Homo sapiens: one gene and its partner. The protein of the gene in region 1 interacts with the protein of each later gene in a biochemical or structural test. Each region holds a gene or a part of one and is shown in the gene's direction. Other genes may lie near its edges.

Region 1 (12,492 bases):
AAGGACAGACAGACAGGCATCCTTAAAATAACTATTTGTCATTTATCTGAAATTCAGATTTAACTGTATTTGTCATTTATCTGAAATTCAGATTTAACTGGGCATTCTGTATTTCTATTTGCTAAATCTGGCAACCCTATGTCCCACCAGGGGCAAGTGACTTCCTTCTAATGCTGACATCCCTGGAACCTTGAGATGCCCACCTGGCTGGGGCTGTGGTGTCACCCTAGCGTGCTTCCTGAAAGTTGGGCTGGCCAACCAAGAAAAAACACAAGATGGGCCAAAGCCCTGTGGTGGTCATGCTGAGGTCAGTCCTCTCAGCTGTGTGGGGCTCTCCCACTGCTCCCCATGCTGCCAATGTTTCAACAGACCTTCCATTGAATAACTTTGTTTAGTTCTTACATGGCCCCCTCTCTCTTCTATGCTCAGATGTGAATCCACAGGAGCTAGGCAAGAGAGAAAACCTGAAAAACTACAACTACAACATGCTTAGAACTGTCTACTTAGATCATGCCCTTAAAACATAAAAACAACAGAATTTTTTTGATTATAAAAAGAACTCTTTGCATCTCCATCTCCACTGGGGGCAGGGATCAGACCATGCTCGTGACCTCGTGAGGGTCTCTTCTTTCCTAGAAGGCCCTTGGCTCTCCCAGGCAAATAGATTCCAGGTATTCTACCCTCTCAGTCCCCTACCACAAGCTACACGTGCCAGGCAGTAACAGGAAAGCACACAGAGGGCAATTTATCCCATGCCTACTTCATTCTCCCAGATCCACGATTCCGTTAGCTAAAAAATAGAATAAATCTGTCCATTGAGATTGACATGAAGGATTGACAAATGAGAACTTCTCCCCTCGTTAGACACACACATGAGGGAGGAGAACAGGAGGAAGGGAAGGAGGAGGGAGTCTGTTACTGGACAAAATTGCATGAAATGATAGTTCTTTCTATAGACAGGAAAAGATCTTGGCAGCTGTGAGTTCTGAGGAACTGGGGTGAGAATGGGGGTGGGGGTGGCAAGAAAGGGAGAATCTTATGCGTTATTGTATTAGTTCATTTTCACACTGCTGATAAAGACATACCTGAAACTGGGAACAAAAGAGGTTTAGCTGGATTACAGTTCCACTTGGCTGGGGAGGCCTCAGAATCATGGTGGTAGCCACAAGGCACTTCTTACATGGCAGCAGTAAGAGTAAAATGAGAAAGAAGCAAAAGCAGAAACCCCTGATAAACCCATCAGATCAAGAGAGTAGCAGGGGAAAGACTGGCCCCCATGATTCAATTACCTCCCCCAGGTACCTCCCCCAACACGTGGGAATTCTGGGAGACACAATTCAAGCTGAGATTTGGGTAAGGACACAGTCAAACCATATCATTCCACCCCTGGCCCCTCCAAATCTCATGTCCTCACATTTCAAAACCAATCATGCCTTCCCAACAGTCCCCCAAAGTTTTAACTCATTTCAGCATTAACCCAAAAGTCCACAGTCTAAAAGTCTCATCGGAGACAAGGCAAGTCCCTTCCGCCTATCAGCCTGTAAAATCAAAAGCAAGCTAGTTACTTCTTAGATACAATAGGGGTACAGGTATTGGGTAAATACAGCCATTCCAAATGGGAGAAATTGGCCAAAACAAAGGGGTTACAGGGCCCATGCAAGTCTAAAATCCAAAGGGGCAGTCAAACTTTAAAGCTCCAAAATGATCTCCTTTGAATCCAGGTTACACTGATGCAAAAGGTGGGTTCCCATGGTCTTGGGCAGATCTGCCCCTGTGGCTTTGCAGGGTACAGCCTCCATCCTGGCTGCTTTCATGGGCTGGTATTGAGTGTCTGCGGCTTTCCAAGCAGATGGCACAAACTGCCAGTGGATCTACCATTCTGGGGTCTGGAGGACATTGGCCTTCCTCTCACAGCTCCACTAGGCAGTGCCCCAGTAGGGACTCTGTGTTGGGTCTCCAACCCGACATTTCCCTTCCACACTGCCCTAGCAGAGGTTCTCCATGAGGGCCCTGCCCTGCAGAAAACTTTTGCTTGGGCATCCAGGCATTTCCATACATCTTCTGAAATCTAGGCAGAGGTTCCCAAACTTCAATTCTTGATTTCTGTGCACCATGTGGAAGGCTCAACACCACGCGGAAGCTTCCAAGGCTTGGGGCTTCCACCCTCTGAAGCTAAAGCCTGAGCTCTAGGCTAGCTCCTTTCAGGCTCCTTTCAGCTGGGACACAGGGCACCAAGTCCCTAGCCTGCGCATAGCACAGGGACCCTGGGCCCACCCATGAAACCACTTTTTCCTCCTAGGCTCCAGGCCTGTGATGGGAGGGGCTGCCATGAAGGTCTCTGACATGGCCTGGAGACATTTTCCTCATGGTTTTGGGGATTAACATTTGGCTCCTTGCTACGTATGCAAATTTCAGCAGCTGGCTTGAATTTCTCCTCAAAAAATGTGTTTTTCTTTTTTACATCATCAGGCTGCAAATTTTCTGAACTTTTATGCTAGTTTTCCCTTTTAACATGGAATGCTTTTAACAGAACCCAAGTCACCTCTTGAATGCTTTGCTGCTTAGAAATTTCTTCTGCCAGATACCCTAAAAAACCTCTCTCAAGTTCAAAGTTCCACAAATCTCTAGGGCAGGGGCAAATGCCAACAGTCTCTTTGCTAACACATAACAACAGTTACCTCTGCTCCAGTTCCCAACAAGTTCCTCATCTCTATCTGAGATTACCTCAGTCTGGACCTTATTGTTCATATCACTATCAGCATTTTTGTCAAAGCTATTCAACAAGCCTCTAGGAGGTTCTAAACTTTCCCACATTTTCCTGTCTTCTTCTGAGCCCTCCAAACTGTTCCAACCTCTGCCTGTTACCCAGTTCCAAAGTCACTTCCACATTTTCAGGTATCTTTTCAGCAACAGCCCACTCTACTCGTACCAATTTACCGTATTAGTTCATTTTAACACTGCTGATAAAGACATACCCGAAACCAGGATCAAAGAGAGGTTTAATTGGACTTACAGTTCCACATGGCTGGGGAGGCCTCAGAATCATGGCGGGAGGTGAAAGGCACTTCTTACATGGCAGTAGCAAGAGAAAAATGAGGAAGAAGCAAAAGTGGAAACCCCTGATAAACCCATCAGATCTCGTGAGACTTATTCACTATCAAGAGAATAGCACAGGAAAGACCAGCCTCCATGATTCAATTACCTCCCCCTGGGTCCCTCTCACAACATGTGGAAATTGTGGGAGATATAATTCAAGTTGAGATTTGGGTGGGGACACAGCCAGACCCTATCAATTCTCATGTAATGCAAAGATCCTCTCCTGTTTCAACGTTGCAGTGTTATTCTCCCAGGAAAGGCAGAACCTCTGAACACAGTGTTTACCTACTTTTTACTCTGAGGTTTGCCCAACAAGATTTCATTTTCAAATGGGAGCACTTGCTTAACAAATCTACTAAATAGTCATGAAAAGCACTACAGCTGCCACCTTCTAAATGACAGGTGTTTCTTTCATGATCAACGTTTTATGCCAAATGCAAGGAACTTCCCCTCTGGCTGCCCCTCCTCACATTTTTGCCATCTCCTATCAGTCTCCCCAGATCTGGCCCATCCTTCACAGTCCCATTCTTGTTCATTCAGCCCCTATGTTCTTCTCACTCTGTTGCTTGTGCTTGATTCCATTTATTCTGGTGAGAATGATCAAATCAGAGAGAATTCCTGGCTGGGCTCTAATACTCACCTCCAGCAGTGAAAAGCCCATTCTGTGCAGGTAGGCTCCAGGTATCTGCTGAAAGCCTGCTCTGGAATGGGAATGGTCAGTGTATTACAAAGGAGGGTGCAAGGAGTGGAGTGAACTGTTCACTGTTTTTCTATGGAACTTTAATTCAATCAGGGAATACTTGACTTGAAACAAATGCTAGCTGAAACAGTTGTATTTCATTTTGTCTTTATTATTTTTTAAAACTTTGTTGACAACCCCAGAAAGAAGATTTGGGGGATGGGATTGATCTGTTCTGACCAGAATGCTGAATCCCAGTGATTTCCCCAGATTAAACCAGGCTCCAGGAAGACAGCAATTTTCTCATTGCTGCAGTATCTCAAAAACACTAAAACAGCAAGTTTATTGAATGCCTATTTTGGAGCAAGGCTAGTGGGAAATGGAAAGAGACAAAGATGAAAAAGACATAATCTATGTCCTCCAGGAGTTTACAAGCTAATGAGAGAACCAGCCATGTAAATATGGACACAAAGTGGATTAGATGTTTATTATATAATATGGTCAAAGTGTGGTCCCCATGGGTCTCTGAGACCCTCTTGAAGGGTTGAAAGGTCAAAACTATTTTCATAATTATACTAAGACATTACCTGACTTTTCCAGAGGCTACAGGATGTATGCTAATGCCACTGCCCTGAATGCTAATGGAATGTATGCTTATGTATTCTTGAGCTTTAGAAAAAAATCCTCAGTCTTAATTTCTAATGCATAAATTGCAATAGCAATATCAATAGGTAAAACCTACACAGGCAAAAGTTCTTTGAGGTCCTTGGAAATTATTAAGAGTATACAAGGGTCCTGAGACCAAAAATTTGAGAACTGGTAAGATTTAATGCATCAACTACCATTACACAGTGTCCTTGTTTCTCATCAATGCATTTTATATAGCAATTATTTTATCTAATCCCATGAAACTCACTTTATTGGATGCTTTTGCCATATCCTTATTTTCTAGCATCGTAGCTATTAGGTCATCTAATTATTAATCTGTTTGTGTCTTTGGGTTTAAATGTGTCTTTTGAGGCCACACAATGTTGGACTTCATTTTTTAATGGAGCCAACAATCAGCAATTGTTAATGCATTTGCTTTGTGTTCTATTACTCTGCAGTTTATCTTACTCATTGTTATTTTTGCTTTCTTTAAATTTATGTTTTCTTAATGGACTTTAAAATTCTTTATTTATTTTTTATGTCAGACAATAAACATCCCTAGTCTGCCCATCTTTCTATCATTTCAACATCATCATATTTCCAAATAACTTTTCATTGTTTCCTATAATTTTACTATTAATAGTATAGGATTAAGAAAATAAACCTTATCTGGGTTCTGGCTGGCACTGCCTTCCCTCTAGGGATGAAAATGGAGTGTAGTCTGTAATATATCCTGGTATCATAAATATATTTATAAAATTATACAAATGTAGCTTGCAGTTCTAAAGGCATGTAATCTAATTTTTACTTGAATTTTATCTTTTTTCTCTTTTTGTCCTTCATAGACCTCGAGCTCTGTCTAGCCCTCAACTGTTCTCAAATCTCCATTGTTTTCTACAAGTGACCCTCACAGCTGTGGGCCTTTGTTGACAAATTGTTTCATCTCCTCTGGGTCTTAAATTATTTTCTCTTACTCTAAAGTGAAAATTTGATGAATGTTTCCAGATACTGCACTTGGAATCATAACTTAATTTCCCTTAACCTTGTGTAAATTCTGTCCCCCCACTACTCCCAACTCCTATCCCTCCTCCAAAGCACTGATACTTATTATCACATTTAAATTTTTTCCCCGCTCTACTGATAACTTACAGAATGCAGGACTGCATTGTGATGGGGTAATTTCCATGAGTTGATTGGTTGGTTTTGAGTTGAAAAACTTAACAATGATACATCTTAAATTCTTTCTTTGAGGATTATTCCTTAATGAATTCGTGCTACGGACATACTGAGGTGGTTATTTTTATATTTCCCTGATAATAAATTCTAAATTGCTAAGGGTTTCTTACCACCCTCGTCCTTTTACTGTTACTAGATCTATTTTTAGCTGGTGTGGGCGTCCCCAGCTAGTTTCACTTGCCTAATGCTAGTTCTTTTTTCTTCTACATCAGGTCGCCTCTTCCTAGCATCTTCTCCATGTTTCTTGTTGCTCTACAGCATTTACAAGACCCAGTTTAATAGTTTAGTGCCTTTTTTGTCACTCATTATTTCTTCTTTGTTCTCTGTTAAAATAATAAGTGTATGATCCATTGCACTTGCCTTAGAGTCTTGAACCAGTCTTGGATTTCCCGCCATCTGGGTTCTGGCTGGCTTGCAATTTCTCCTTTGATGTTGTAATACTTTTTCATTGAACTTGAGTGTGGGGCTTATAGAGCTTCTTTGCTTTCATTATTTTTTCCCAAAATGTGCACATTTTTTTTCTTAAGCTTATTTTGCTGTTTTGTGCTGTTATTTTTAATTGCTTCCCACTGGGTGGGGGGGTAGGGGGACTGAGAGTGAGATTTGGCTTGAGTTTGGCTCTCTTTGCTATTACTCACATTTCCCCCCAGAAGCCCTACATGCACTCCTCTCTCTCTGTCTTTGACAAATTACTTTTGAAAGATCATTGATCCCTGGCGTAAATGGTGTTAAGAGTAAGATGGACTCGGGTAGGGATGCTCAGGAATCCAGTCCTGTACAGTCATGAGCTTGGCCATCTGGAAGTCTCCTCTTGCTCAATGAAATGGAGTAAACATTGTCCATTATGAAATCCACCACACAGGCTGCCAGGGACGAATGGGATCCCACCCAAAGCCAATCGCTGCTCTGACAGGGAAATTGGCTAGCACTGCCTGAGACTACTCCAGCCTCCCCCGTCCCTGATGTCACAATTCAGAGGCTGCTGCCTGCTTAGGAGGTTGTAGAAAGCTCTGTAGGTTCTCTCTGTGTGTCCTACAGGAGTCTTCAGGCCAGCTCCCTGTCGGATGGCTTTTATGAAAAAATATCTCCTCCCCATTCTGGGGCTCTTCATGGCCTACTACTACTATTCTGCAAACGAGGAATTCAGACCAGGTAAGTACCCATGCGTCTCATTTTGGAGGAATAGGTTTAAAAAACACAGGGGTGCTTGAGTGTTCCTGAGGACCAAGATGTGTTCTTGATCCTCAAAGTTGGTGAAAATGAGGGAACCCTGAGTTAAGATGGTATTTTTGTGTCCTCCAGCTACAGGCTGTGGACAGGGGGGACTGTGTAGGAAGGGTAATCGTGTAGCCAAAATCTAGCCAAATAGGCCATGCTTTATTTGGCACCCTTAATGGAAAGCAGTTTCAAATCTTCTACAAAAATGAGAGTAATACCCAAATTCACAACTCAGCAGCTAATTGGGCTCTATGAAGAGACTGATAAGTGGGAGGCAAAAAAAAAAAAAAAAAAAACTGGAGATGATGACTACATAGAAGTGAGGGAAAATCCCTGGAATTTCTATGAACACATGTGTTTTGATTCCTTGTTAAATGTACTTTCAATTGAGCAAAATTGAAAGAGTCCAGAAATGTCTGGAACTCCAGCATTTTAGCTGAACCATGACTTTTCTGGCTTCATCCTATGATCTCTTTCCATGGAGGTTTTTAGAAATGACAGTAGGGAGGCTGTCAGCCCAAACCTCCCACTTCAGAGCATGTTTATGAAAGACCTGGCCTGTTCCCACAGTGATTTACGGAGTTTGTGACAAACTGATCTGGGCTCATAACCTTTAAGTTACAAATTGCGATAAGCATGCCTATATCCAGAGAGGGAGAAGGAATTTTGCTGCCAACTTGGGTATGGTCCTCACTTCCTTTTGGGGTTCCCCAGAGATGCTCCAAGGAAAGAAAGTGATTGTCACAGGGGCCAGCAAAGGGATCGGAAGAGAGATGGCTTATCATCTGGCGAAGATGGGAGCCCATGTGGTGGTGACAGCGAGGTCAAAAGAAACTCTACAGAAGGTGAGGGTTCTATGCTCGCAGATATGTGTACCGTCACATGCTCAGATGTGTTCTTATATATGCTCACATATACACAGAAGCTAGCATATCGCAGATCTATATACAGAGGCACATGCACACACACAGACACTTAATTTTGCACTCTCATATATAGATTCAAACACCAAAAAACCCACAGGAATATAAAAGTATGCATTTAAGCATTCATTCATGTGTGTGTGTGTAATATATTCTGCAACAGAGTCCTTGAGTTATATATGCTCACAGACATGCCTAGTCACACACATTTACACATGGAACTACAGATACATACGGATGTTTTCAAAAACTGAAATCCCAGTACCTGCTTATGAATACATATCCTCATACCCATGCAGACTCCCAGACACATGCCCTCTCATGGACTCACAAACCCAAGGATGTACAAACATTCACAAACCTAGAGCTACCCACATAGTAACCAGCATCTACACTCATAATGCCCTCAGAAATGCCTATTCACAGAAGCCATGAGCATAAATCATGAACTTAAACCCCAGCACTGGGATGATTTATCCATTTGAACCCCACCAAGTTCCAGAAAATATTTCAGACAGAGGACGATGATCATGAGGGTTATATTAGGCAACACACACACAAACATACTTACCATTTCTTACCTAAACAGGGCTGTGAGCAATCTCTCATTTAAGCCCCCCGTTACTTCAGAGACTACCCCCCAAAAATCTGCAGCTAAGACTGATGCCATTTCTGCTGTATCACTGCAGGTGGTATCCCACTGCCTGGAGCTTGGAGCAGCCTCAGCACACTACATTGCTGGCACCATGGAAGACATGACCTTCGCAGAGCAATTTGTTGCCCAAGCAGGAAAGCTCATGGGTGAGGCTGTTTCTCTTACCTCCTCCTCTGAACTTTGCCCTTGGGGTCACCAAGAGCTTTTGGGAGGAGAATGGGAAAGGTATCAACCCCAGATGATTTCTTAATATAGCCATCTCTTGCAGGAGGACTAGACATGCTCATTCTCAACCACATCACCAACACTTCTTTGAATCTTTTTCATGATGATATTCACCATGTGCGCAAAAGCATGGAAGTCAACTTCCTCAGTTACGTGGTCCTGACTGTAGCTGCCTTGCCCATGCTGAAGCAGAGCAATGGAAGCATTGTTGTCGTCTCCTCTCTGGCTGGTAAGTGGGACAGGGACATATGTGGAAGGTAGAAGAAAAAAAAAAATGCCAGGGATGATGCCAGGCTCTGAAGTAGACATAAATTTTTATCAGTTTCCATGCAGAGAAGTAATGAGGGATTGGTCAAGGTAAGTGGGCTACAAAATTCTTTTAAGTAACAGAGAAAAAGCAGTAGCTCTGAGTGCTCATTGGAAGACTGAATTGTTTTCTACAAAGTAAGGTCAAAGGGACTTGAGGGGCTGCTGGAGGTACAGCCTGTCCTGGTCCTAAGGGAGAGACCTAGTTACAATATTAACTTGAAGTTGAAATGTTCATAGTAATATTAAACAAAAGCTGATTAACAGCTTACTCATATGCATGAATGGGCAGATGTACTGATAAGAGACTTGTAGGGGGGTGATTTGTGGACTCAATGAGAGGCACGCATCCTGAGTAAAGGAGACACTGTTACAAACTAGTGACACCATAAAAAATGAAGGATTGGTCAAGGTAGATGGGCTACAAAATTCTTTTAAGTAGCAGAGAAAAAGCAGTAGTTCAGAGTGCCTATTGGAAGCCTGAATTGTTTTCTACAAAGGAAGGTTGAAGGGACTTGAGAGGCTGCTGGAGGTACAGCTTGTCCTGGTCCTAAGTGAGAGACCTAGTCACAATGGATAAAAAGGACTTTGCTTCCTCCATGACCAAAAGGTTGGTGAAGTTATGTAAATGTGAAGGTACAACTGAGAAGTTAACTGTTTTAACAACACACAGGTGTCTGATAAGTGGGCTAAGCTAAAGCTAAATAAAATGAACAACAAGAAAAAAAAAAAAGATGAACAGACCTGCCTATAGTGGGTGTATTCTCTAAAATTTGAACATGTTAACATGAAAAGATCAATTTAAACAACCAGCTGGGTAGGGAGGAAATGTGTCCAGAGAAATGGTCATGAAAAGATATCTGTGGGATCAAGAGAGGTCCCTGGTGTTCTGGATGGTGGTAGCATCAGAAGCCATCACCAGTAAAAAACCAGTGAGTTCCCAGCTTGGGACATTTCTAGGCCCATTTTTATCATAGATCCAGGAGACAAGTTCCACACATCTTTGTTGATTAGTCAGTTAGAAGGATGTGGCTGGAAAGTGCAAACACCAGGATCAAAATCCGCCATCTAAATGTTGTTCCTGGCAAAATAAAAACAAATAACCTAGAGGACTCTGTAAACTGTTAAGCACTTCACAAACATTCTTATTGAAACTAATAGCACCATCTGTATCGTAAAGAGTTCTCCTTTCTGGCCCAGGGACGGCCTGCATAGTGATTGGATAAAGGGGCAGTGTGTCTGTGCTACCCGCCAAACAGTGTGATTGATATGCATCCCGGTGCTTCCCAGACAACACACACTCCCCACCCCTCCCCAGACACAGACTCTCTCTGGGCTGGAAGAAAGGGAGAGCTTCCAGATGCATACTGAGTGGGAGGGTGCTGGGCACATCCCCAATCCATCCCAGGGCATTGGACAAAATCCTCACATCAGTCATGATGTAGGTGGCTTTAATGATTTCAGCTGATTAAATAATACATTCACTCTAGGCAAAGGATGTATTTCACCTTTGACGAATGTAACTTTCTAGAATGTACCCATGATCTAAATGTGCTCAGAAGGACTAAGAATTACTGTTGAGCCCAAGGACGTGATGAAATTCTGATAATCTCTGTTTCCCCATATCTCCTACACTTATTGAATGACACTTGGTAATTTCCATGAACTCTGGGAGGTAGGAAATCTAGCTGGATGAGTATCTTTGGTGTTTATTGCTTGTGTAGCCAAAAGATTCCAGCTTTTTTGCCTTGAAACCTGTCTATGAACTTGCAAAGTACAGACACATTGCTGTCTTGCCGCAACTGAAGAATATTCTCTGCTTTATGATGTATTCTTTTAATCAGTCAGTAAACATGTTCATTAATCCTTCCTCTTTAAAATCTAAACTCTATAAATATGGGATGCTAAACATCAAGTTGATCTTAAGGTCAGCCAAACAGTACTGGGATGGAGTTTTAATCATTTCTTCTAGGGAATACCTTAAGTTGTTTATTGAGTTTCAGTGATAAAGAATTGTTTTTTCTCCACAATGCATTTCTGGGTATTGCATTACATGGGAATACTATACTTCTAATATGTTCCTTAAAGGCTTGGTTACCTCTGTAGCATTAACAGAGACAATACTGCTGCTTCTGGGAACCTCCTTGTAGTCCACATCTATCCACTATTCACCACCTTTTCTTGGCACCTATTGAGCAAGTTTCTTGTATGTGTAACATCCCGTTACATTGATTAGCCTCCTCTCCTTCCACCACTTGCTAGTTAGGATGTAAGTTCAGCTACTGTAACGAAGACCCGAATTTACAATGGCTTAAGCAAATCTAAATTTATTTATCTCACACAAAACACCCTGGAAAGGCAGTCCAGGGCTGATATGGTAGTTCTGTCCTATGAGGCTGTCCAGGAGGCCTTCTATCTCAGAACCACCATTCCTAGAGTGCTTGTTTACACCTGCATGTCCAAGATGGCTCATTGGCATGTCTGAATTCTAACTCAAGAAAATGAAAAAAGAAGGATACCACCTGGAAGGTGTACACTTTTCTTCTGCCACAGCTGGCTGCAATTGTTATCTTTATTCAAAGGGAACATGTGTCCAACTAAAAATCAGAAGTTCTATTTGTGTAAAAGACACTGATATTGATAAACAACTAGCAATCTCTCCCACATCACCCATGCTAAAAAACACATAAGACTAGAAAAAAGTATACCCTCCAGGCCATCCCACATGTGAAACACACACACACACACACACACACACACACACACACAAAAGACTCATTCCCTCTCACATTCAAGGTCCATCACAAAAAACAAAGTCCTTCCATCCGGCAGTGCGTGCAGGGGACAGTGGGGTAGGAGAAAGAATGGAAAGAGAATACCTAAATAGCATTTGTGAAACAAACCAAAGTAGAAATATTAATACTTGAATATGACTAAAAAAAATCACTGGAGTGGGCAGAGAACATTTGAAAACATCTGGAAAAAAGTTTATCTGACATTAGTCAAAATAGGTCATCTTAGGTTCAATATTAGAAAAGTAAAGTTGGTTTCATTTTCGGGCTCCTGGGCTTGGTGAATCCCATCACTGTGGTGTGTGTCATCAGTTGCACACATGGCAGCTAGAACTGAGCATCTAAGGCCATTTCTCCACCTGCTTTATGCCCCTGAGAGGAATCACGGACAAACCCTGTCTTCCTCTGCTCCTTTCTCCTCTCAAAATCTACTTAGCCCCCTACCTCCTATGAAGTCTTTTTCAGAACTCACCAGAGCCATTTCAATGTTTCTTCTTTGTCTTTATCTACTATATTTTGGTAAGTTAACTTTAGAAATCCAACTTCCTCATCATTTCTCTTTTTTGGGTTTATTGGTAATCCAAATACTACTAATACTACTCATAACTACTAATAACACAAATGTTAAACATACTCGGCAAGCATACGTGTAGGGATAGTAATCCTTCTGGATCAAGGAAAATGCAAGGTATATTTTGAAGTGAAACTGGACAT
Region 2 (11,833 bases), on another chromosome or scaffold:
TTAGCCATTTTAAAGGTAAGTTGTATGATTTTTCTTTAAATAAAAAAGATTAAGGGATTTTTCCCATCACCCAGATGACGGGAGGTGACACTACTGTATAAATACTCCTAAGAAGTTATATAGGAGGACAGGAAAAAAGGTAGTAACTGTTTTCTTAGTCACTAGGCTTTATCTAAAAATCAGGTTTGCATTATTTTCAAGTTATCAACCTTCCTATATTTTATGCTTAAACCATACCCAATGGCATTTCATGTCGTATGTATAAGTTAATATTTAAAGTGATTTATAATCCAATTTGGATTATTATAAAACTTTCATTTTATACTTAGGCTATTTATACATGATGTTTAAATGATGAAGATCATTATACTGCAGACCAATATAATGAGGTTAGATGTTATAAATGACTTACAGCTCTTATGTCAACATGTTGTCTAATATGCAATTATTAACTATTACTTTACAGAGTCATTAGCTTGTTTAATTTTCAATCTGAATTGCACAACTTTTGGTATACCTGACTTGCTCTACATGATCAAATGCAATGTGTATTTTGGATATGTGCTTTTTAAGTTCTTTTCTGTAATGAACAAAGATATTGTCATTGTTACTGGGAATAGCAAAGTATATTACTTTTAAATAATCTGAAATTTAATTAGTGTAAATTAGTAGAATAAAAATAAAGTTAATTTTTTTTCGATTCAGGAAGCTTATTACAAATAGTACTGAATTATTAGATGATGATGCCAAGTTGAAGTAAAGGAGAAATCAATTTGGAGGAATTAAGTAAAAGCCTCAAATTAATTATACATTAACTAAAATTATAAATAACTGTAAATGGCATAAATTCTCTAGAGTACATCCCAGTTTCTGAAATCATCAAGTAGCATATTGAAACCTGTTTTGTAAAGATTTGCATGTACTTTTTAGTCTTTTTCTGTGTGGTTTGAAGTCAGTAATGTGTGTTGAAGCTAAAAAATATTGCTTTAAATATTGGTTCACAAGGAAGCCAAAATGAAATATTTAAAAATGTTTGTTATATAGAAAGTCCAGTGGTCCTTTGGAATTTACAAGAAAATAAGAACTAAAGTAGAAATCATTTAATTTCCCAGACTCATTAGTGAACCAGAACAATAAACCAAACAGAGAACCATCAGATAATGGGTTAGCCTGGGAAGAATATTAATTACAACTGGAGGTACTTGCACAGAGTGTACTGAATTTGGAATTTACCTTGGAAGTTATAGTTGCCACCCTATTTTTTTAAGGAATTTTTTTAACCTTGTTTACTTTAACACATTTGAACCCTGCATGTGTGTGTATTTCCTGTGTGTTTCCTGAAAAGGAAAGTTTAAGATAATTCTGTAACTATCAGATACTTAATTCTGTAAGTATCCTTGCATCTAATCAGAAGATGTTTTTGTTCACTGGCCCAAGATGTGTCTGAAACTTGCAAGTAGCATTGTTCTAAACTAGTAGCTGTCTTTCCATTTGCATATTTTAATTCCATACATATATGATCACATTTCATTATAATCTAACTATTTTGCAAATACTCATTTCTACTTTTGTAAAATATACACATTTATTAGATTTTTAAAACACTTGGCCAATATGAAATAACACTTTACTGTTATGGTTTGAAATGATACTTCATAGTAATATTTCAAAATAACAATAACATTTTCTACAATATAAATATATATTATTTTACTTCATTTAATACTTGCAACCTTATTTGATGTAAGTAAACTCATTTTAGAGAAAACTGTATCACAGACAAACTTCAATACTAACACCCAGAACTGAATCTACATTTCTTGGCTTCAAGGTCCAGCATTTTTGGCATTACAAACTTTATAGTGTCTGTTTATAGTAGAATTTGGGGTGTGGAAAAAAGACATTAGCATTCTTGTCTAAGGTTCAAAAATTAAGAATGGGTCTAGATAATACTCTTTAAGTCAGTATGAACTTAAGGGAATAATTTCAAACCTACAGTAATCCCTGGTTCATAAGTCTTTAAAAGACGGGACTTGTTTCTAGAAGGATCCCAAGTATAATATATAAAGTCCAATGTATTTATTGCATTAGTTTTTAAAGACTACCATCAAAACAAGTTACAAATTGCAATATTTGAGAAGTATGTAATTATTTTATATTACAGATGTCTATCAAGTTTTTTCCTATTTTACATTTTTACCATCATATATTCTGATAGGATAGAAATGGACATGAGATAATTTCAGTAAGATAAGATTCTGGAGATCTCATAGTCCAGTTATTTGAAAATTACTTGTGGAGCCCATGGGTTCTTTGGAGATGACTCAGAGCCCAAGTGAAGCGTGACTGGGAAAGGGAAGAGGCACAGTTTCTGCTCCTTTCTTTTACCAAATAACTCTTCTTTGAACTATCTTTTATATTGGTATTGTGCATAAAATTTACCTTGAAAGGAGAATTCTATCTCTAAACATGATTTTATAAAGAATGACCTAATGACCTTATGTTGATGAAACATAATCATAGTTAAATGATTGTTTTACACCCATTTCTACTACCTTGAATTTGAATCTACATTTTTACTCATGTATAGGGAACTGTGTCTTTATAAACATACATAGTTATGATAATGTGAAAAAAGTAATTTTAAAAACTAACTTCTATACTCATGCAAACCGTTGAATGAATTCCCCCAAGTCCTCCAAAAACTAGATTTTATGGACAGATGCTGTATTTTTTAGGTAAGGAAAACTCTCTGTATCAAGAGAATGGAAAACAAGAGTGTGGTCTGGTTTTCTATCCTAAGAAAAAGTGGGAGGAAGGCTTATAGATAGAAAAAAAAGAAATTTTAGCAATCTACTGATCAGTAAGAAAATGTCATTTAGGTCTGGCAAGTGTCTATGGTACAAGTACCCTGGAAATCTAAAACTTTTCAAATTTCATAGTTTACATCCCAGCAGATGTTACTTCAGGGCCATGCCTTTTCTGGGTGGAGTTTCCAAGGGAACACAGCTTTATAAACACAAGGGATTAATTATAGATGCTCTGGGGACTTGCTCTAATGTTCTAAACTGTTTACTGAAGAGGCTTCTTATATCTCAGTCTAATGCAGGCTTTGCAAAAAGCTTAGTCTCTGTTTCTACTGGGTTCCCAATATAGTGGGAGGGTATTTTGCTTAAAAGTTCATTACAGAAACACTGTTGACCTGATAACCAAAAAAAAAAAAAAGTTATATTTTTCCTCCCTCTTTCAAAGATGACCCAACGGAATAGGGTCCACTCATGAATTCTACAAAAGGAATAGGATTTATAATCTATAAACTGGACAGAAGGCAACTGAGCTGCCTATAGAATCAAGAAAGGCATGTAATTAGTTGCCTATTAAAACACGTCTTCTTATTTTCCCTTTCTTCTTTATACAAGTCTCAATTAGTTTTCTGTATCTTGGCTTTCTAAATTTAAGTATTTTAAGCAGGAAGTAAATTATTACCGATACAGTATCAATATCTTGTCTGTTTCTTATAAAGGACAAGTAACAATTAGTAAAGAATAAAATTTAATCTACAATTAGCAAATGAAATTAATTACCTATTTTCATATATAAGGAGTTGTGTTATTAAGAAAACTGAGTAAGCATAACCCAAATTTTTTTATGCTTTAGACAGCTAAATTTGGTGGAATGGTGGAGACAAACTACATTCTTTCTCTGAAGATAAATATAGGTGGAAAAGCTGTGTGACTACATGTGCTATTTAACATGAACTTTTCTCTTTTGTATTTGGTGCACGTCTTACGTAGTATGGGTGGTTCTCCTTTGCCTCAGGTGAATAAAACTAATTATAATTTTGTCATATGCAGCTTAAGGATAGAGTATGATTATAATAACAATACTTCATTACTCATGGTGTCAAGGCACCGAGTGATAATAAATGAACCCAACTAGTGTCACGTATTTTGCCTATTCTTAGGAAAAAGGTAGAAACTTAAAGTAATAAGAGGCAATCAATCAGTTGAAAATTTGAACAAATAGACAAGTTCAGTTTGTCTAGCTCTTTTTTCAAAATATCAGCACATGGATTGAAGTTTTGTTAGATTAATACTTGTAATTTTGCTTGTATATCATCCTGACCAATGTTAGATTGAGAACTGTCTAACCATAGAATTCAACAGAATAAATTACTTGATACTTCTGTTTTCTAATGTATGTGACTCTACAGCAGTGGGATGTGTACACTATCTCACTTCAGTTTTAAGTTCAAAGCAGACAGAGCTAGGCAGTACCCAGGCCTGTCCATTGCTCAACATATCTAGGCTCAGAGTCCATAGAAGTTATACTAATCAGTTTTCAGGTCTAGAGAGGGAGCCATTGGAGCGCATGCACTACTCCCTGGTTTCTTCAGTGGTTACTGTTGGAACTCTTTACCCCTTGCAGAAACTCTTCTCTGTAGTGCATGGAGCTACTTGATTGAATAAAGAAGAATGATTTGGGAAAAGGCCAGATAGATTCACAACTAGGTTGTGGCATAGAATCTGGAGAAGGGCTAATATATGCACATATACCTATTCTAACAGCAATAGAGTTATAATTTTAAATCATTTTGTATCACATTTGTCAGAGTTGCAAATGACATTAATATTGAATGAGTAATTTTTAGTGAAGTTTATGTGGAACATAAAATAACTTTTCCAGAGAGATAACTTAATCCTTGAGTTATACATGTTTTAAATAGATTTTCATACTATATTAACAAAACTGGAATGTGACACTGGGGGTTTCCTGCTGCATTTTTTATGTGGGCTCATAAAGCTGTGGGTTTCTACAGAGGTTCTCCTAGAGCTTCCTAACAGTGAGGATAAAGAGTGTCAGGCAGGAACAGGAAGACAAAGTTAAGAAACAGAGTCTCTGGGTTTCTTAACTGCTGTGGAATCAGTCATTTTACCTAATGCACTTCCACGTAAGAATTGAAAAACCAGTTCAGCCGCTTAAATTAAAAAATGCTGATCTCATTTTATCATCTCATTTTACGCATGAGGAAATTGAGGTGTAGAGAGATTATGTGGCTTGTCTGCTTTCATTTAGCAAGACAGTGACAAATCAGTCTTTGGTTTAATCTTGTCCCTTCATCTCAATTGAACCAGCTGGGATCGCTATATTTTAATTGCTTCGTTAAGTATAACTTGCAGAAAATATTTGGGGATGGTCTATGAAATGGGCATTCAATAAAATATTATGTACCTAATAAACTACCCTAAATCTCATTATCAGTTCACAACATACAGAACACCAGCATGACATTCTCTAGTTGGCGATTACTGTGGTTGCTTAAAAGATGGTTTCAAGAAAAGTTTCAAGTGCTTTACAATTATGCATTGCAAAGGAAATTCTATTTGACAATATCCAGTCCTGATTACCAGCATTAAATTACTCATTCCATTGCATTAGGACAGCCATGGACAAAGCCATATGAGGTAGCATGGTATACGATTTCCAAGGGCAGGGAAAGCTATTGTTACCACTCCACCCTGAACAATTAATAAAAAGCCAGCCCTACTTGCTCAGTGAGACAGAAAATTCCACAGGAAAAACAAATCACTTGTTTAGACTTATGTGCATTCCCTTTACATTGGAGAAAAATGACACTAAAGAACTAGTCAGTCTTCTTAATCACCAAGACCTTGATGTAAATGAAGTTTATTGCATCCTATGGTTTATACTGGAAAGTATCCTATGTATAAGGGAATAGGCAAAGGGGAATCCCAAAGGTTAAGGGAACATATGTAAATAATAAAATTGCCAAGAAAAATATTTGTAACATTTATTCCTACATTTTGGGGGAAAATATCATTTTCTTATTCTTTTCTTAGCTCTACAGGTAATATTTTTGAAAAACTATATGATTACTAAAGTGGAAGTAAATACTAATAAAATCATAAGAGTGGTACCTCTGTTGCAAGACAGCTGTGGAGGGAAAACCTGAAATTATAACAAACCACAATTATTAATACACTTACAACATTAACAACAATATTCTATGTGCCCTTTTTTGACTGTAGCCTTCATTCCGTTGGCACATATGTTTTCTTTGGCCATGAGCATTTCAAAGTAGAGAATAATTGTTTATAAACTATAAAGCGCATTCTGACTATAAATGACACGCCAACCCCATTATTGACAAAATGTCATTGCAACAACAAAGAAGTTCAAATAAATGTGTTTTCAAATACTAGTTAGAATTAACTCTGATTATTACAGTAGGATCCACTCATTTCACAAACTGTATTCTTTCTTCCAATCTTTTTTTTTTTTTTTGAGATGGAGTTTCACTCTTGTTGCCCAGGCTGGAGTGCAATGGCATGATCTCGGCTCACCGCAACCTCCGCCTCCTGGGTTCAAGCGATTCTCCTGCCTCAGCCTCCGGAGTAGCTGGGATTACAAGCATGTGCCACCAAGCCCGGCTAACTTTGTATGTTTAGTAGAGATGGGGTTTCTCTGTGTTGGTCGGGCTGGTCTCAAACTCCCAACCTCAGGTGATCCACCCGCCTCAGCCTTCCAAAGTGCTAGGATGACAGGTGTGAGCCACCACGCCCGGCTCTCCCAATCTTTATATAATAATCACATACTATGGCTGGGCATGGTGGCTCACGCCTGTCATCCCAGCACTTTGGGAGGCTGAGGTGGGTGGATCACGAGGTCAGGAGTTCGAGACCAGCCTGACCAACATGGTGAAACCCCATCTCTACTGAAAATACAAAAATTAACCAGGCATGGTGGCGTGCACCTGTAATCCCAGCTACACAGGAGGCTGAGTCAGGAGAATTGCTTGAACCCAGGAGGCAGAGGTTGCAGTGAGCCGAGATCGTGCCACTGCACTCCAGCCTGGGTGACAGAGAAAGACTCCGTCTCAAAAAATAATAATAATCACATACTTTATGAAGACACCAAACATTAGATTGACAAATATATACTAACACAAACTACCTAATTTTAACAGAATTAGCATGAATCAACTGCAAATGACAAACTATATTGTAGTTGAATGTGTAGGGAAAAAATTCTTCAGTAAGAGAGCAATGCCATGGTTGAAACAAGACATCCTCTACATTTTATATTTGCTTCAAATTCTTTATACCTGTAGTCTATCCAAAGTCATCAATAAAACTGAAAGTAAGATACTCTTATTTTAAAAATTCCATGTTTTAAACAGTTTTTAGGACAAGCCATTCAGGCCTGAACTCAGTATTCATGAAAATTAGACTTTCTTTTAACAGTTATTTTAAGTATGGTGATATTAGAGAGTGTCCCAGTATAAAATTTCTGAGAATTTTTTTCTATTTACCCATGCTTTTCTTATTTTCACAGATAGCTTTCCAATGATTAGACGAATTGATTCTTTCTGTGACTCATCAGTTCATTTCCTGTAAAATTCATGTCTTGCTGTTGATTTGTGAATAAGGTATCGTAAATAAAACATCTGTTACCATACTTGCTTATCATTTAATGGAAAACACATCAGTCAACCCACATTCTGTTCGCAGGAGAGCTCCAGAAGGGGTGTGGAAGGTTGTGTTGGGTGGAGAAACCAGATAGTGAGGATGCAACTAAGTTGCTGAGACAAGGGAAGAGAGATGAGGGTGAGAGTTCTCCTTAGATAAGATTTCAATATGTTAATCATGTGTAGAAAGAAAATTAAAAAGGAGGAATATGAAGAAATTCAGATATGACATTATTAGTTCTGCCACTGGTAGGCATTAGAAGCAAGAAAAGGGAGACGGACCGAGGAAGCCACTTTGGTGAAACAAAAAGAAAAGCATTTGTTTATTTAGAACGGGCAAAATGATACGTTTCAGTGGGTGTTTTCTTTGTACTTTGATCTTTTTGTACTGATATTTAAGCTTCTGTTTTATGATCTCTTTCTAATGATAGAACCAGAGCTTGTAGAAACCACTTTAATCATATCCAGGAGTTTGCAAGAAACAGGTGCTTAACACTAATTCACCTCCTGAACAAGAAAAATGGGCTGTGACCGGAACTGTGGGCTCATCGCTGGGGCTGTCATTGGTGCTGTCCTGGCTGTGTTTGGAGGTATTCTAATGCCAGTTGGAGACCTGCTTATCCAGAAGACAATTAAAAAGGTACAAGTAGTCCAAAGAATATGCCTTCTCATTTTGATTGATTCTAACTTCTCTTTTTTTGCTTTGTATTTACCTGCTTTATATTTCATGGTAACTGCTAATTTTGTATCTTTGACATAAAGGTAATTATGAACCACTGCAACTCTATATGATGCGACTTTATGTGAAATGTTATAAGTATAATGTATATTTAACATGACTCCATTGCTGTCTTAAATATAAATACCAAATTCTATTAAAAGCTGTCTACAGGTATGCATGTTAGTAGAAATAATTGTTTTAAGTTATGTCCAAAGAGCATGTTGGCATGCTTTTGAGTAGGAAATAAGTGAGTATATTTTGTAAAAGCACATTTATAAAAGAAGTTGCACTTTAGTTAATACTGAGAAAAGTAAAACTGTGTGTGTGTGTGTGTGTGTGTGTAATGTGTTTAATATTGAAACATAAATCCTTATTAAATTGTAGGTAAACTTGTTTGGTAATACACTGTTTAGTAATCCACTATTTTTATATATGTGTAATAATCTCATCTCATAAATATTTTCTATTTGTGAAGCTTCATATTGGAATCTTAGAAAATACTTTCAGAAATATGCAGAACATGTCTTAGTATAAAACAAATTGACTGTAGTGTGAAAAAACAGAATGATTGAATAGATGGGCTTTGCACAACAACCTAGAATTCATCTCCCACCCTAGCTTATTCGAATTAGCTACACACTCACTCATCAGAAACGTTGATTGATAGGGGGAAGAAGAGAATAAAGGGAAGCAGTTCTGCTGAAGTTCTAAATCAGGGATGGCAAATTCAAATGGCTGCAGGAGTTTGGATACAGGGGTTAAACAAAATTTAAGGTGCCAAGAACAAGATAAAATGAAGAACAGGAACTGCTGTGAACTAGACTGTGTGTTTACTGCCTGAAGGCATAAATGTTCATTTTATTAAACATAATACTGGCCAAATAAAACGAGTTCTGCCTTCAACTCTCTACCTGGTTAGGATGGCAATGACCTAGACAAAGGGTTAGTAAGCATAGTGCACGATGGAGAACAGGAGGAATTGAATTTTTATTAAATTTTTATTGCTATATTGTTAGTATTTTTAATATTTTTGATCCACAGTTGGTTGAATCTGCAGATGTGGAACCCATGAATACAGAGGGCTGACTGTATTGTGTTTATTGCTAACATATTGCAGAACTTCAGCCTCATGCATTTAACTGAAAAAACATATGTAAATTAGTATCCCCTGCCTTGGAATTCTTAGTTTTCTTGATAGTATTTTTAATACAGGCCAATGGAAACAGACAGGTAATAGTGAGGTGTGGGGCTTATCTAATAGTGGGATGGAGTGGCCATTGATCTGACATCCTTCCTACTCATAAACTATGTTCTCACCCAGATCTTATGCAGAGAAAGTACAAGATCAGTGTCTGTGTTAACGTACAGACTACAACATCATTTGGAAAAGTTTTCCAAATTCAAAAATCACAATAATCTTCCAATGCACAGCGATTTAGACTACTTTTTTTTGCTGACACATAATTATTGGTCAATAACTGAGTATTGATGATTTAATTTTTTTCTTTGTCATGCAACAAAACTGGTACATGTAGATTCTTTTGAATAGCATGTGAGGTGCTAGCATTTATTTTAATTCTTTAATATTTATCTTTATGCTTATAATAGTTAACCATGAGAAAGTAAGTTTTCTGACATCAAAATGTGCTTTTGTATAATGACTAAGAGAATAATATAATCTCATCTATTGTAAGCTATAACCAGGGGAAGATATATTATAATAAAAAATACCGAGACCTATGAGACTCTAGAATTGAATTGGAAAAGTAAATGCTGTAATACTTTGAAAGAGAAATCTCTCAGAGTATTCAAGAAACTTCAGGAAAAAGGTAGGACTTGATTCAGATTTTAAAGAAGTGTAGAATTTTGAAAGTCTCAAATAACTGCAGTAACCATATTAAAGGACTGATTGATAGTATGAAAAACCCTGTGAAAATGCTACCAAATGCAGTGAAGATGGAAGGAAGAAGGTAGAGAATGTGCCCATAATACTGGATTAACAGCAGAAAAGATTAGAAGTTAACATGGGGTTAGAGTTAGGAAGCAAGCTTAGAACATCAGGCAGAAAAATACTTAATTGATGATACAATACACAATAGTCGTCGGTATGTTTTTCAGCAAGTGTAAGATATGATAAAACCTGAATTTAGAGATTAGATGGCTAACATTTAATTCTTACTAAGAGTTTCCTATATACTAGTTCACTTAATCTTCAAAAATATCTGTGAGAAGTTGCTGTTATTTTACTCATCTTACAGGCGCAAGTCCTTAAATCAACTTGCCAACTCACCTAGCCAATAGGGAAAGAAGTCATTCTCCAAATGTAAGCAATCTGTAGGAAGAGCCTAGATGAAAAACCTGGCCTTGTATACTACTCTACAGCAGAAAGGTTGCAAAGTGAGGATACCAGAGATAGGAAAACAAACAAACAAAAAACTGTAGGATATGACCACTTTCAAGGAGAATATAAGATTCCCTTTTAGAAAGATATTTGCATAATCTGCACATTATATAACAAAAGGCACACTGGTCTGGCATGGTTGAGTATATAGAAAAAAAAAACTGATAGATAATAGGATGAAATGGAAGCTTGGAGAGACAGATTAAATTAGAGGAGTAAAAGCATCAAACTCAAGATGTCCAGTGAGTTATTGATAGAAGGTATGTATATACCTTACAAAGTAAAACAGAGGTTTTATAAGTGATGTTTTATGAACATCAGTCTGTGTTTCAAAGGTCAGAGTTCAAATAGATTTGATCATTGCTATAAAGATTAAAAATAAAACTAAACAGTAGATTTACTTTTAGAGAGTTTTAATGGAGAGAGGAAAAAGCAGAAGAATTATTACAGAATTTGTAATAATTCAGAGGCAGGAAGACAAAAGTAGAAAAGGAAAAGAATGATCTTATATGAAGAAACAAACAAAGAGTACAATCCTAGAAGTTAATAGGAGGCCAGAACTCAAGGAAAGAAAGCATAAAATGTTCTCAGGCAGATGAAAATTAAGAAAATAATGATTAGAACATGGTCACCAATAATTTTGAAAGTATACTTTGAGTAGGGTAATAAAGAAGGGGGAATTAAATCAATGGAGTGCTTTTCCTTCTTGTTTTTGAAATAAGAATTATCCGTGCAATCTTTTACAAGGAAAAGAGAAGATTCAGACTTCCTAGTGTAGATTCAAACTCAAGGAGGTGGTACAACAGAGACTCATAAAAACTGTCAAATGACAGTGCACATTGTAAGCCCCCTACATGTCCATAGACTAAGACTCATCATCAGAATCCTTATATTGGTCAAGATGTATGGTACATTTAAGGCTAAGCTTCTTTTTGCTCTCAGATTCCTACACAACCATGTTGACCTTGTTAATTTAGTCATATGAAGTAGGTGGAATATTGTTTGAATAGACTGTTTCTTTTTTCTTCAGTTTACAGACTATTTTTTAAATGATATTGGCGTATGTATATCTTTGGCATAGAGTAGGAGTCAAATATTTGAATTTTGTGTAAACCTAGAGAGCCAAGTGTCTTACTGCTGCCTCAGAAATACTTAGAGTAATGCTATTTCACAAACATATGGGTTTTGGTACTGTTGACTTCTTATTTGTGTACCATTAAAA

Evidence for each region.
Region 2: the proteins of HSD11B1 (region 1) and CD36 form a complex in vitro, tested with the Homo sapiens proteins (one study listed by BioGRID).

What each region holds. Positions count from the first base shown.
Region 1 is NC_000001.11:209,698,220-209,710,711, forward strand, and holds the start of HSD11B1 (11-beta-hydroxysteroid dehydrogenase 1), read left to right. Parts: upstream 1-6,626; 5' UTR 6,627-6,723; coding exon 6,724-6,811; intron 6,812-7,591; coding exon 7,592-7,722; intron 7,723-8,489; coding exon 8,490-8,601; intron 8,602-8,723; coding exon 8,724-8,909; intron 8,910-12,492. UniProt on the Homo sapiens protein: Controls the reversible conversion of biologically active glucocorticoids such as cortisone to cortisol, and 11-dehydrocorticosterone to corticosterone in the presence of NADP(H).
Region 2 is NC_000007.14:80,638,732-80,650,564, forward strand, and holds part of CD36 (platelet glycoprotein 4), read left to right. Parts: 5' UTR 1-15; intron 16-7,356; 5' UTR 7,357-7,450; intron 7,451-7,517; exon of another isoform or gene 7,518-7,628; intron 7,629-7,714; exon of another isoform or gene 7,715-7,920; 5' UTR 7,921-8,009; coding exon 8,010-8,129; intron 8,130-11,833.